Linked DNA regions of Homo sapiens: region 1 is linked to region 2. Evidence: fine-mapped expression QTL. A gene starts in region 2. The other region holds a variant in brackets. All regions are shown on one strand. Distances are between the middles of the regions.

The links. PIP is the estimated chance that this variant, and not a neighbour inherited with it, causes the effect.
Region 1: its variant is fine-mapped to the expression of LINC02032 in cerebellar hemisphere (GTEx, PIP 0.93).

The regions. Positions count from the first base shown.
Region 1 is chr3:148,114,391-148,122,749 of GRCh38, forward strand. No RefSeq gene overlaps it. Among named protein-coding and RNA genes, the nearest start is that of LINC02032, 40 kb to the left of the region's middle. The variant C/T (reference allele first, on the strand shown) is at 5,051.
Region 2 is chr3:148,074,259-148,082,617 of GRCh38, forward strand. It overlaps LINC02032 (long intergenic non-protein coding RNA 2032), which reads left to right and starts at 3,901. Exons shown (of 2, transcript NR_134937.1): 1 at 3,901-3,999.

The DNA.
Region 1 (8,359 bases), 40 kb after region 2:
GAGGATGTAAAACATTGTTCGTGAACCCACAAAAGAGATTAAGGAGTTCATTAATCTCTCTTCCCACTCCCCAAGTACATAAGGTAAAGTCATCACTTGAGAGGGCTAGAAAAAAAAAATGGTGTCACAAAGGTTCAGTTAAGCCAAGAAAGTGAAGAGAATATTTCTATAAGGCATTGAAGATAATAAAAAATTTGCTAAATGTGATACAATATTTACAGAGGGTATCATGGAAGGATTTATGACTTGGGGAGAAGGAGGGATACTTTACTTTGAGGGTAAATACAGCATCTGGGAGAAAACGGTGTTGTAGATGATTAGGAACTAGAGGACTGACACTTTTGAGGAACTAGTAAAAATAGGGAAAAGATATATGAAGCTTTTGATGTCCCATAGGATATAGATCACTGGGACTGGGAATCAGATAGATCAAAGACCAGTATATGTAGTCACTCTGCCGGATAATCGTGGTCATAATAGAATAAATCACAACATTTTTTGAACAAATTATATTTGGGGTCCTTTATATGCATCATCTCCTTTAATCCTCTTGATTACCTCCTGAAGTAGCAGTATATACTTATGTTGAAGAAAGCAGATTGAAACGTTGATTAGCTGGCCCAATATGATTTTGGACACCTTTATTTATATTTACCCTATTAGAGCTCTTAGCGGTATATGAAGTCATGCTTGAATATGATACTACTACTACTTTTGATTAGGTTCAGCCACACTTAAAAATTGTGGTGAAGTATGTTTGTGTGGCTAGGTGACTGTTGGGTAAAAGTAAGGTTTCTAAAGATGCTGGTTATTGAGTCTTTATCAGGCTTTGTCTTACCCTTCTGGCTGCCCCCATCCCTTGCAAGATCAGATGCCAGTGAAAATAATAGCCATGAACTCATAGGATTGCAAATAGCCTCCGCAAAAAGGCCATGGGTCAAGGAAAATGTATATTTCTTCAGTTTCATTGCCATTAATTCTTTGAAGAATGGTTGTGTAGCTTTAAAATTTTTTAGCAGAGAAACTTTTTCTGCAAGATTGTATTTTAGAAAGTCAATATACAACCAGAGCTCATCTGATTGAGGAAGGGCTGAGGGGTCAGATCCAGCTCTTTTTTCTTTTTTTCTTCTTTTTCTCTTGTCCTGAAACAGCTTCACAGAATCCTTGGTTTTTCAAGAAAAGAGGAGAAAACTCTTCTATAGATTGAAAAATTATATGGGCAAGTGCTTTTTGTTTACTTCAAAAAAATATGTGGGTGCCACAAATAGCTTTTAATGTATCTTTTAAATTAGAGATGCTGAAGAATCAATATATGTGAAAACTAGGCAAAAGCCACAATAAACTATCAGAATAGCTAAGATAAAATATGATGATACCAAATGTTATGAGGATGTGACACACTGGAAATTTCATACATTAATGGTTAGAATGTAAATTAATACAATCTTAAAATTTAAGCACATACCTAACCTATAACTCAGCCATTTCACTTGTAGGTATATAATCAGCAGAAACAAGTGCCTATGCACATATGCACACAAAAAAACACAGGCAGGTATATTTATAACAGCAGTGTTTATAATAACACTAAATTAGAAATGATCAACATATCCATTAATTTTAGAAAGGATAGAAGAGAAAGTGTCACTGCCACCATAGACAATGTTAGCTGCTGAGGATCTCTGCAATCTTTATTAATACTGACGAAGCTTCACAGGGACTACACAGCTGGCACTCTCAGTGGTATCAGAACTGCTGTACCTTATCCAGCAAGTATGCTCATCCTCCACCCAGAGACAAGGATATTTCCACAAAAAAACTAGTCATTAAAGTCTACAAGAGAAGAGTACTCTACCAAATGTGCAGACATCAACATAAGGCAACAAGAAACATGAAAAACCAAGGAGATAATTACCATCAGAAGAACACCATAATCTTCCAATAGCTGACCCCACAGAAATGGAGGTAAGTGAACCAACTAAGAATTCCAAATAATTGTTCAAAGGAGCTCAATGAACTTCAAGAAAATACAAATAAACAATTTAATAAAATTAAAAAAATAAAAACCCAACCTGAAAAATTAACAAATAAATTGAAATTGTTTTATAAACATCAAACAGAAATTCTGGAACAGAAAAATAAAATAAATGGAATTTAAAAATGCAATAGAGAGCATCAACAGAAGAATTAATAAATCAGAGGAAAGAATTTCTGGACTTGAGGGCAAGTTATTTGAAAATATACAGTGAGAGGAGAAAAAATAATACAAAAGAATAAAGAAAACTTACAGGATTTATGGGACAGCATCAACAGAGCAAATATTCTAGTAATAAGAGATGAAGAAGAAGAGAGACAAAAGGGTAGGAAGCTTACTTAAAAGAATAATAGCAGAAAACTTTCTAATCTAGGGAAATATTTAGGTACAGGAAGGTCAAATAAGATTTAATCCAAACAAGATGATACCAAGACATATTATAACCAAAGTTTCAAATATCAAGGATAAAGCAAAGATCTTGGAATTAGCAAGAGAAAAAAAGCAAATCATATTTAGGGAATTCCAAGGCTCGCAACAGAATTCTCAGCAGAAACTTTATACACCAGAAGAGAGTGGGATCATGTGTTCGAAGGGCTAAAGGAAAAAAACAAAACAAAAACAAAACCACTTGGATACCAGGAATACTTGGCAAAGCTGTTCTTCAAAACTGAAGGAGTAATAAAGACTTTCCCCCACACAAAAGAATGCTGTGGGACCACCAGACCTATCTTACAAGAAATGCTAAAGAGAGTTCTTCAAGCTGAGAGAAAATGATGACAGTTAGTAACATGAACACATATGAAAGTATAAAAGTCACTGGCAAAAGTAAGTACACAATCAAATTCAGAATACTCTAAAATTGTAATAATAGTATGTAAATCACTATATCTTTTGTATGAAGGTTAAAAGACAAAACTCTTAAAATAATATAGCCATATTCACTTGTTAATGGTATACAATATAAAAAAGTATATTGTGACATCAAAAACATGAAATTGTGATGTATGTAGAGTAAAAGTCTATAGTGTTTTTTGTGCAAAGGTAAATTTTTTATCAACTTAAAATAGCCTGTTACAAATATAAGATATTTTTATGTAAGCCTCATGGTAACCACAAGGCAAAAACTTATAGTAGATATGTAAAAGATAAAAAATGAGGAATTAATGCATACCACTAGAGAAAATCATCTAATCAAAAAGGAAGACAAGAGAGGAGGAAAGAAACTAAATCCACAAAACAACTGGAAAACAATGAACAAAGTGGCAGTAGTAAGTCTTTATCTATCAATAAGTACCTTGAATGTAAATGTATTAAATCCTTCTATCAAAAGTCACAGAATGGCTGAAGGCACCCAATATATGCTGCCTATGAGAAACTCACTTTGTCTTTAAAAACACATATGAAAATGATAAGAGGAAAGAAGATATTCTATGCAAATGGAATCAAAAGAGAGAAGGGGTAGCTATACATATTCCAGACAAAATATAATTTATATAGAGAAATAAATCTTACAGAGAGAAAATGAAAATAAGAAATAGAGAAAACTCTAAAAATGCTACCAAGTCAAAAACTGTAAGATGAGACAAAGAAGGTTATATAATGATGTGGAAACAATTTGTCAAGAAGATACAACAATTATAAACACATATGTACCTAACATCAGAATACCTAAATATATAAAGCACATATCAATACATCTGAAGAGAGATAGAATGAAATACAATAATAATAGGGGACCTCAATACCCCACTTTCAACAGCGGACAGATTGTTTAGAAAGAAAATCAATAAAATTGATAAGGAACCATTGTTCTTTAACTGCAATGGGAATAAATGGACCTCTCAAACATGTATAAAACATGATACCAAACAGCAAAAAACTACACATTCTTCTCAAGCACACATGTAACATTCTCCAGGATAGACAACGCAGGCCACAAAACAAGTCCTCACAAATTTAAGTACGTTGAAATCATGTCAAGTATCTTTCCCAACCACACTAAATAGAATGAAACAAGAAATCAATAATAGAAGGGACCTCAAAAAAATTATAAAAATGAGAAAATTAAACAACATGCTTCTAAATAATCAATAGGCAAAAGATGAAATTAAAAGAGAAAGCTTAAAACTGTCTTTTGAGAAAAACAAAAATAGAAACATAACATACCAAAACAAGATACAGGAAAAGCAGTTCTAAGAAGGAAGTTTACAGCAATACATGCCTATCTCACAAAAAGAAGAAAGCTGAATTCTACTAAACAATAAAAAAGAATTCTTCTCAAACTCTTGCAAAAAAATTGAAGAGATGGGAAAACTTCTAAACTTATTATATGAAGCCACTATTACCCTGATACCAAAGCCAGACAAAGACACTACAAGAAAAGATAATTACAAGCCAATACCCCTGATAAATATAAACTAAAAAAATCTTCAACATAATATTAGCAAACTGAATTCAACAGCACATTGAAAGGATCATTCATCATGATTAAGAAGGATCTATCCCTTGGATGCAAGGATGATTCAATATATATAAATCAACAATTGCAATACACCACAAGAGCAGAATGAAGAATAAAAGTCATATGATCATTTCAGTAGATGCAGACACTACATTCAACAAAATTCAACATTATTTAACAATAAAATCTCTTAACAAAACAAAGGTCATGTATGATGAGCCTATAGCTAACATCAAACTTAATGATGAAAAGTGGAAAGCTTTTTTCCCGTAAGATAAGAAACAAAACAAGGATGCTCACTTTTGCCACTTCTTTTCAACATAGTACTAGAAGTCCAAATACAAGTTTCCAAGTTGTCAGGCTCAAGAAGACCTCATCAAAATGGATTTGAAAAGCTCCTCACCAAGGCAAATTATTAAATTTTAGAACACCAAAAACAGAACGAAGAGTTAAAATTTTTTGAACAAGAACACTTAGGCAAAAAAAAAATTATTTTAGTAATTAGGCAAATTTTAATTTGTAATTAATTTCAAATTTTAATTTGTAAGTAATTA[C/T]TAAATTTTAATTTAGAAATTAGGCAAAATAAAATAAAAGGCATCCAAATAGGAAAGGAAAAAGTAACATTACTGCTGTTTGCTCACAACACGATCTTATATAGAGAAAACTCTAAAACTCTGCCAAAAAAACTCTTGGATATAACAAATAAATTCAGTAAAATTGCAGAAATCAAAATCAACATAGAAAAATCCATAGCATTTCTATACACTAACAAAAAAAATCCAAAAAAGAAACTGAGAAAACAATCCCATGTTTTTTTAAAAATTATTGTTTTTTAAAAATTTTGTGTGTACATGTTATATATATATATATATATTTATGGGGTACATGAGATGTTTTGATACAGACATGCAATGTGAAATAAGCACACCATGGAGAATGGGTATTCATCCCCTCAAGCATTTATGTTTTGAGTTACAAATAATCTGACTATATTCTTAAAGTTATTTTAAAATATACAATTATTATTGACTATAGTCACCCTACTGTGCTATCAAATAGTACATCTTATTCATTCTTCATATTTTTTAGCAACACAAAAAATAAAATAGGAGGAAATCAAGGAGTTAAAATACCTGTGCATAGAAAACCATAACACAATGATGAAAAAATTGAAGAAAACACAAATAAATGGGAAGATATTCTGTAACATAAATTGGAATAATTAATATTATTATAATGTCCACACCATCCAAAACAATCTACAGATTCAATGCAATCTCATCAAAATACATATGTCATTTTTTACCAAAATAGAATAAGCAATCCTAAAATTCATATGGAGCTACAAAAAACCCAAATAATGAAAGCAATCTTGAGCAAAAAGAACAAAGCCAGAGCCATCACATTACCTAATTTTAAAATCTAATGTAGGCCTACAGTAATCAAAACAGTATGATTCTGGCATAGAAACAGACACATAGACCAATAGAACAGAACAGAGAGCCCAAAAATAAATCCATAAATTTACAGTCAATTGATTTTCAACAAAGATGTCTTCATAAAATATTAAAAGAGCCAAACAAAAGCTCTTATTAAATAAAACTATGATAGCGGAAAAAAAAACTTCCTATAGAAAGTTTAGAAGATAAATTTGAGAAAACCTTCTACAAATAAAAAAAACTAAGCAGAAAATAGAAGAATATTACAGGATCAGTTGATAAAGTATAAACATCTGAATAGTAAGCAACCAGGTAAGACAAAAAGAAAAAATAAAAAGAGAAAAATATTTAAGAAATAATACAAGAAAACTTCCCTTATCTAAACACAAGTTTCCAACCTGACAGCCTCTGAAAAGACATCATCGAAATGGATTTGAAAAGCTCCCCAGCAAGGCAAATTATTAAACTTTAGAACACCAAAAACAGAATAAAGAGTTAAAATTTTTTGAATAGGAACAATCAGATCTCATGCAAAGAGAAATTAGAATGGCATCAAACTTTCGAAAAGCATAATTTAAAGCCCTCCAAATTCTAAGGAATATGGAAATGTATATACTCAAACTTTTAAACAAGTGATGATGATGATGATGATGATGACGATGATGAAAACACTTTCAGATAGTCAACATAGTAGCTTCTCAACTTCCTTTTTTTTTGATAATGTCCTGGAGAGAATCAACCAAGAAGTGAGAAGACAAAGGAGATAGAAAACGGATCTCCAACTCAAGAAAAAATCAGAAGAAAAGCTTGGAAAACCATATGGGGTATGCCATTGAACAGCCATTTAATACAGAGGGCAACCACTTCACATTGGATCAGGGGGACTTACATGTCCAGGAAATCTGTATTCAAAGAAAATATGATAGTGACTCATTAGAAGTATGATTAAATGTATAGAGAGGAGATTTCATATCAGAGGAGGGTTTGTGAATAAATTAGTTATAATTTCATAGAAAATTAAGCAAATGGAAAGAAAAACAATTATATCCAGGAAAGACCAAAAATTGTGTAAGAAATGAAGGATAGTGTTGTGATGTTTACATAGTCAATGTAATATTTAACCACAAAGTATTGGTTTAATATAAAATTAGATTACATTTATATATTGAGAAGATGAAAAAAAGATTTGTATATATGTGTGAATACATGTGTTGTGGGGAGCAAAATATGGTCGTGTTGGCAAGGATGTTGGTGCATGTAGGTGGGAGGTAGCAACATTTTTAAGGCAACTTTTGTAATAGGAAGACAAGAGTTAATGTATGAAAACAAAAATTCAAAAAATGAGGGTATAAGTATGCTATTTAGAAATATGAGTAAAAGTCCCAAGAGAAACAGCTAAAATGTTGAAACCAACTGCCTTTTGAAAAGCATCACCTCAAATGAGGTAGGGAAGTGGGTGAAACAAGGGAGTACTGTTTTTCTTGATAATCCTTGAAGATCTATTTGATTTTTTCCATTGTGTGCATACATTATTTAATTACACAATTTTTTAAAAAGTAAAATGAAAGAAATAAAACTCTATGACAAAGAAAAAAATTAGCTCAAGTTTGCTTGAATGAATGGGCAGCAAGACCCATTCAAGGGAGTATCTAGTCCATGTGTCTCTGAGGCTTCTACAGTGACTCTAACCTCAAACTGCCTCTGAATCCTGAAAGCACCTTATTATTCGACCTGCTAAGGTCAAAGTGACCTCTCATTCTACCAGTTGTGCTATACTAGGAAGTGGAAGAATCTGGCTCATTCTTTTTCCATAGTAGGAGTCAGAACACTTTCTCTACTGACTACAAAACGGATTAATTAAGGTCTAATAGAATGAGGCAGGGGTTGGGATTTGGATGCTGAGCAGGGAGAAGATAGTCAAACTTCCACTACAGTTATGGTGAATAATTATGTAAAAGAGTAATTGGGCTACCATGATTATTTTTATTTAAAAATTTACAAGATTTATTTCTGAAGATCTTTCGTAGTGCATTGGGTAAATAGTTACTTTGCTAATGAAGTGCCAGAGGCAGTACAATGCAGTGGGTAATAAGTTGGTCCTCTGCTACAAAGGAGCATGAGATAGAATTCTGGCTGGATCCTTCACTGCTGTGTAAGTGCATGTAAATTTCTTAAATGTCATGGTGCTTCAGTCTCTCCATCTTCAAAGCAGAGAGAACAAAATATCTACCTCATAAAGATGTTACAATGACAAAATGTTGGGAATATGTATTTTTTCAAAAAAGATAAATGCAGAAACAGAAAAATAATTTGAAAATGCAAAAACAAAATAAAGCATTAAAACTTTGAAAAGTATCTATACTGAAAACAGAAAAATAAATTGCATATAATCCCAGAAGCAAAAACTCATTAAAAGTATCATTT
Region 2 (8,359 bases):
AGGTCTAGTTCTAGATGTTGATGTTAGTCTTTATGAGTTTAGCTTCTTCATCATTAACTACCAAATTTACAACTAATATGGAATCCATCCAATAGTTGATATATAAAGCATTTATGGCTGTACACCCAGATCTCTTTCAGCACGATTAAAATCAGATTTTCAAGTTGCTTTGAGAGAGCTTGAATTAAGAACACTCAAGTTTACTATATAAGCGTATATAAGTGTATATTTTCTTTCTCCACAGAGTCGTGATCATGAGGGAGTTTATCATTGTCATTCCTAATGTCAACTCTGGTCCAGGTGATGTGTTTGTTGTACACATAAGTGTGTTATATGTGGGGTTGTGCCCACAGGGATATAGTAAAATGAACCATACTACTCTGTTTTCATCATATTTCATAAATATCCAAATTATAGAGACATAATAAAAGGTAAACAAAGATTCTCCCATTGCTCAACATTTATAATAGTTCATCTATGTTTCAACATAGTGGCCCTCGCTACCATGAATATTTTCTATAATATAGTATTTGAGATGCATTGATGTACTCAGATTCTAGAAGTCCCAAGAAAGCTGCATCAATTTACATAGTGCAGGCAGATGTGATGTGAGCACCACATTATATGCATGTAATTTTGTATATTTCCAATCCCTCTTTATGTTAGAAAAAGCATCCTAGTTTAATGTTATTGAATTATTACTTAGGCTCCAGATTCACTTTAGAAATATTTTTATAGAGAGAAAATATTTTTTCACTCAAATTAACACATATAAAATAGAAAGAATAAGGCACATAAAGGCCATGGGCTGCATTTTGCAGGGGATAGGTTCTGGTTGAATGAGATCTGGGATGTGTGCCAAATTAATAGAAAAAATCCTGTTCTTCCTCTCCAATAGCCACAATGTTCATTATTAAAAAAAAAGCATACGAACCACAGGATTTGATTTTAATAACACCAATGTCTTCATTAATCTGTACGTTCCATTTAGCCTCATTATTGAGCAAATGTTGAATTAATGCAGTATACATTATTGTTGGATTTTCCTTGCAAAACCTCTTTTCTCTCTTTTATCATTCATTCAGAGACCATCATGCGTATGTCATGTTTTTACACAGGCCTGAAGCCCTCAGAAATTGAACTCAAAATTCTTCCATCTAGTCTAGGAGAAGACTTTAGGTTTGAGAAATCTACAAAGGGGTGTGAGAAACAGAACTGCAGATTCCCATTCAAAACCATAACTATTTTTCTGTCTTTTTAATGCTGTCATGTCAAGACACCTGCAACTGAGATGATATTTCCTCGATGGTCTCTGGGCCTCCTTCTAAATCAAGAGTGGTGATAGCCAACACTGCTTTGTATCTGCGAAACAAATAGTGGCCTTTGTCCAGCACAAGTCCCTAAACAAACTTAATCTCTCTAACACTGTGACAGATGACATTTAGATGTCCTTGTTACCCTTAAAATGAGTTTTATTGACAATCAGAGAACAAAAAGAAGGCCCAGATAAAGCCCAATGTTTTATAGGCTTGCTAACAACATCTTAGTCCAGAGGGTGAGGAGAAAGCCTGAAGTTGCCCCCATTTTCCCCTGCTTTGCTATATCACCATGACAACAGATATAGAAATCACTTAGTGACTCCTAGAAAGAAAACACAGTGACACAGTACCCCTTGTATGGCGAATCAAACTAAAGCCTTCATTCAAATGGCTATTCAGCTTGGGCATTCATGTAGAGGATAGGGTGGATTTTACACAGGTAACTACAAGAGAAAGGCCAGCAAGCCCTCCAGCCACAGCATATGGCAAAGTCTCTGTCTAATTAATGCATCCTCAATAGAATTTATCCATTTTAAATTTGTTTTCTTTTACTTGAAACATCATTAATGTAAAGGGCAACATTAATCAACATCATGGAACTTAAAAGGGCATTAAAGAGTGATCTTTTTCCCTATGCAACAAGAATCTTTTCAAGTAGTTGTGTTAACTGCAGCAGATTCAAGGCACATTCTGAGTTTGTAATCAGAAGGCAAATCTAGAGAGGCCTCTACTGGCGAATCTGTCTCTGTGCAGTTGTCCTTGCGGAACTGCCCTGGAAAAACAAGCAGGAGAATGACTTTCGGCTTTTTTTTATTGGAAAGTTGCACACCAGATGGATGACCAATGAATATACTGTATAAAACATTGAATAATGGCATTCACACTTTTGAAGCTGTCATATCTAACTGCTTATTCTCAGGTAATAAAAGGACCCTCAAGCTCTGATGTATGAGCTGCTTGGACTCAAAGAGATGTTTTAAGATTATTCAACAAAGAAATAACAGGTAATCTTTTTTTTCTTTGTACATAACGCTCCCATTCAAGTTTAAGATTTAAAACTATTTTGATATGAAATTGTATTTCTTGACATTGTTTGTTGGGGAGGCACACTGTTCACACACATATCCATATATCTCCCACAACCAACTAAAAACTGAAATAAAATCTTTAGATGAAACTAAAGTGCCCATGAAATATTTTGATTAATCAAAAAGCGAAAGTTTACTGCTAAGATTTCCTAGGAAATGTGAACAAAATATAGTCCCCTCAAGTGATATTTAACCTGAAAATATCATTGCACTATATTTTCATGAAATTAGGCTGAAAATAGCTTCACTGCTTTGTGAAGTCACTTTTGGGGGAAAAAAAGTAAAGATTTAATTTTTCCACGAGAAGTTGAAAGTTATTTAATATTTCCTAGGATGAAGATACTTATGATGTCTCTATATAAGGAAGCTCAGGGACTTTTCTCTTTGAAAAAAGAAAACCTGACTCCATAAATGTCTTTGTTCAAGTGTGGAATATTATGGTAACACTACATGCAATCTTGAAACTTTTCAAAAGGCAAAACCCTAATCCTCTTGTTTTACAACATTTTTATATCCAATATTTTTGAAATCTGATCATACCGAAATACTATTCAAATTACATTTATTCTCTTATATCTTTCAAAAATTCCATGAGTTATTTTTTGCTGTAATATCTGATATCTCAGGGTCCCTTGCCAGCATATTGTTAGTAGGGTCATTTCACATTTCAAATGTGTATTTCAAATGTTTAGTTGAGATTTTGAGATAAATTTGACCAAGTAACTTTTCACAGGGTGGTTTGGTTAGCATGGCTCAGTAAATTACCTTTGGATCATACAGGTAATTCTTGATCTTAAAATTAAATTCTGTTAGATGGCTTGAGATCACTACCTTTTAGTCCCAGTAGTGACACCTACTGGTAAAAAGAGAACAAAAAATAGTTTTAGCTTTCTTTCTGCTGTTTTAGAGAATCTTAACCAGGGACTCTGTTGTTAATAAATGTACCTTATTTACGATTTGTTTTCAGGTCTTTAAAATACAACTCTACATTACCAAAAACTAATTAGTGAGGGGGAAAACCCAAACAGAATAATGCAGGTATTTAATAAGGAAAAAGAAAAAAAACTTACTAGCAGAGGAGTATAGTAAAACTTAACACCAAATAGTGTAGAGAATATGTAATTACAATCTTTTGAGTTTTTATATATTGTAGAAAATGAGAAGCCAAGCTTTAGCAATAGTTTTTCTGAAAATGCCACATTTCCCAGTTAGAACTGGAAGATGAAAAGGTCAAAATGCTGTAAAAAAATTACTTAACATTTTTTTGTTTCCACAAATGTTTATTAAATGTTCTATATTTAAGAAAGAGCAAAGTCAATCCAGGAAAAAAAGAAGAATATATGCTTGATAGCAACCCAATTGTCAATAATCTTTGAGGATTTATGCTAATTTAACCAGAAATGCTCTTTCAGAACACGGATTTATCACATGTCATAGAACATTGAAGTCACATTAGAATGTGGTTAATTTCTCCACTGAGCTAGAAGCACATGGTTTGCAGAACATTGGCTACAGTAAGAACATACTCTGCATCAGAGAGGGTTCAACATTAACAACGTCTGTAAAAACAGAATCACAGCTGTCAAGAAGAGGTATGATCTTTATTTCTCCTAGAAGCTTCAGTGAAGCTCCTCTTTAAATTACATTTGCTCTTAATTTATAATATTATGACACTACACATTCCAGTTTTTCATAAAGCACATGAAGTCTTATTTAATAAGAAACTGTTTTAGATAATTATCTGAAGACCCATATAAAACTTGTATAGTCTTTTTTTGACTGCTAAGTAATTCACTTGTTAAACTATAAAACACAGCATCAATAATTTTAGAATTTTACAGTCATATGAGATAAAAATGGCAGACTGGAAAGAAATACATTTCAACCCAGGTTTAATTGGAATGAGCCTTTTTATCAAAATGCTCCTAATATTTCTTTTAGGAAACTCTAGGTCTTTGTTAATATTTCAGCTTACAAAGAAAATACAGCTATCAGTATCCCAAAATATTGTTTTGCCTTGGGGATTGTGGTCAGGTATATAGTAAGGCAGAGAATCATTTAATCCATGATACACACTTGTGACTACTTTTGTGATATCACTGAAAGGAAATGTGTGAAAATGTCACAAATTACTCAGCAGACAGTTAGCTATATTGGTGTCTTTGAAACCATGTTTGGCTCTGCTGTGTGCTTTTGTTTGTACAACTTGAGCACATGCTTCAAAATGTCATCCAAATTACAAGCATGCAAGGAATGAAGTATTACTTCTCTATCAATTTCAGAAGCATACTACTTTTATTTCATTAAATAGCTTATCAGCCAATCACACTTGGTAAAATCATGAAATTCCTTTCTTACATTTTTTGCAGGAGATATTCTATGTTGTTATTTATGATCTAAAATAAATCTTCAAATTTGTTTATGATGGTAAATATGGGAAAACAAAGGACTTTTAAAAATCATGTAAATTACAACATAAAAATCTGAAAGCACAACATTTATACAAAATCATTTGGCCAACTTGCTGGCAATTAAGTTGGGATACAATGTGCTCAGGGTGAAAACAAGATCAGAAATTAAAACAAAGTAGCCAGAAAAAATTGGAAAAGTTTTGGTTTTGGTTTTGGTTTTGGTTTTCCTGAGTACCTGGACCTGCAATTCAGCTGATCATTAAACACAACCAGAAAGAAAGGCTCTATTTTGCCTTTAGAGAGTTCATCCAGAGACTGCACAAGGGATTTGTACAGAATAAAGCCTCACAAAACCCAAGGGCTGTCAGAGGGAAATGGTATCCAGGAGGACAGGGCAGGCCAAGCATCCTCTCAACAGCAAAGCCACACAAGAGAGCCAGAGGCAGCACTGCGACTGCCAACACAACTGCCTATTACGTCTGCCAAGGAGCCAGAAGCCGCTTGTGGGAAAATATCACTTACCCTTAGCATCTGGGTCCTGTGATTGTTATCCAAAGAGACAGAGTGGTAAGATATAGTGGGATAAACAGCATCCCATTAAACACACACGTACACACACGTACACACACACACACACACACACACACACACATACACGTTATCTTTCTGGGTAAAGAGAGAGATAAGCCATACATGGATTTGGATTAGACTTTCTGTAGTTGGAATTCTTTTAAATCAGATTTATTCTATATATTCATATTTAGTTACATATTCAGTTATATACTCATATTTCATAATGAGATTGGCTTTAGTAATTACTTCTCACTAATAGTTTTGGTCGGTAAAAAACAAGATTTTAGTTGTATTTGTGGCTATTTGATGTGCATAGTCCACTATGAAATTTTTATTTTCTTGGAGTAATTGGTTATAGCTGGCTGATAGGATTATTCAAAAATTAAATATTGATTATGAATAAACTAAAACAAGCTATGCTTTGATGTTAAACTTTTTTTCTTTTTCTTTTCTGGTGTTGTGTCACTATTTTTAAGAGGCCAACTTCCAAAATATATACTCATAAAATAACTGATAAATTCTTATTAAACATGTGCTATACTATAAGCATGTGATATATATATATCATTATATAATAGATATAACTATGACATATATAACGTTACTTATGTATAGTATATTATATATATTTCAGTTTGATAAAGTCCCTTCTAAAATATACACTTTCAATTTACATCTGAATGAATCTTCTTGAAGTTTCCAAATGTGGCAATCTGATTGTATATATTCACTCTGCACCAAAAAATGAGGATGAAGGGGAGGGAAAATCTAGAGAATTACAGATTGGAGACACCTTGTGGTTAATGTAAAGGTTTTAATTCATTCTTATGTAGAGAATTTGAAGATCATTATTACTGCAGAAAGTAATAGCCTTCTGTTTTTGAGTCTTCAGTAAAAGGGTAAGAAAAGTAGTTTTCATTTTAAATATTCTGCTCTGATACCAAGAACAGAAAGTAATGCAGTTTTAAGTGTCAACAGCAATATAATGTACCCAAAGAGAAATTGTTTTATATTTTATTTTATAATGTCAATTCTATTGTACAGTTTAATGGAGAGCATTTGGAATAACAATCCCATTTATGTACACAGTGGATTTATTATTAAAACTCATGCTTTGCAGGAATAAAATTAAAATTTCAGTGGCATTTAGTGAGTAAAAAAATGTGTATTTCAAGGTCATAAAATCTATTATATTGGTGCAAAAGTAATTGCACTTTTTGCCATTACTTTTAATTGCCAAAATCGCAATTACTTTTGCACCAACCTAATAGTTGCTTATTTGTGCATGTTATGTGAGATAAGGCATATGGAGCAGTATATGCCATAATATGCATAATAACATGCACTTGATTACTTATAAACATGTTTCGCATGTGCATAAAATATATTACACGGACGTTTAATTTTTTAATTTATATAAATAGCAAAGTAACTTAGGTATGTTTATCATCGAATGCCAACATGAATACAATGTTCAAAAGAGATAAAAATTTTGTGGAAGTGCAAAACCACATGGTAAACAATTGATATGTTTTTGTTTATTTTTCTTGTTTGTCATTACCACACACACAAAGAAATTTGATTCTAATTGATAACCTTTTGACGAATAGATTATTTTCTGATACCAAATAATTCTCAAATTGATTCAAATTTAGTTCCATTTTTACAGCATTTTTATGTAAACTAGATAATAATGATGAAAAGTGTTTCTTTTATATTGCTTCTCTATGTAATGGTGGAAGAGCCTGTGAATTCAATTCAATGAGGCTCAATTATGGGAATGAGGAAGAAGATAAGGGAATAAATAGATTCTAAACATTTTATTTCATTTAAAAATTTAAAATGCTCAATTGAAATGTGAAATATTTCTCCAATATTTATAAATACATAAATAACTTATGAATATGTGCAAAAAATCAATAAGAATTTATGAAAAGTTTTTGGGCTATGTGTTGTTTCATTTCCCACAAGGGAAACTAACAGCCCCAGAAAGATGTGAATAAAATCAGAACTACTTTCTCTAGGCCATTTAAATGATTACACTCTAAAACTAGAACCTGAAATGCAAATGTTTAATTTTATGACCAAACTACTTTTACATATTTGTTGCATTTGTTATATCTTTTCCTTGAAGCTCTTGTTTATTTCCTTATCTAGTTGCCTTTTTCCCATTTCATTTCTAATCCCGAAGGTTTGCAGTTTCAATTTTCATTATTTTATTATATTTATACCATGCCTTTAATCTTTAATAGTTTTTTTTTAAGTTTAGTTGGTTTATTAACCCACAAGTTTAATTAGGTATTCTGTAACACCACAAAATGTAGGCCTAGGATATACTATTATATACAAAAGCATTTCATGTAAGTCAGTGTATTAAGACTGTTAAATTTCAACTTATTATAATTACACATGGCAGAACCATTTAACCCTTTATGATCTTTACATATTAAATTGTGAAAAAAGAAACCGTACTCATTTATTAAAGCCAACAAGGTTTACAGCCTTAACTAAATGTTACATAGTCATGAGTCCCAGAGATTTATTTTTTCCATAAGATAGCAACTGAAGTTACAGAGGACAAGTTATCCTCTCATTCTCTGTGTTAATCCTGTGTTCTTTACAACTGTCCAAATTGTATAAGAATTTGCTTATAATGATGTTATATGATGTCCTTGTGATACCTGCATTTCTGGAGAACTTAATATTGATTTACTGTGTCTTTTGCCCATCTTTGAGCAGCCTAGATAGCAATTACAGCTGTTGGTGGTATCTATTTTGTCTTTTCATAATTGTCATTTCATGTTCTACTTAAGATTAAAATATGAAAATTGTACCACGTGCACATCAACAGTGCATTAACCAAGTTATCAGCGATATCTGTGAAACACTATGATTTAACCATGGTTCTTTACATTGCTCCTTCATTTTATTTACGAAAATTGCATGCTACAATATAAACTTGAACAAG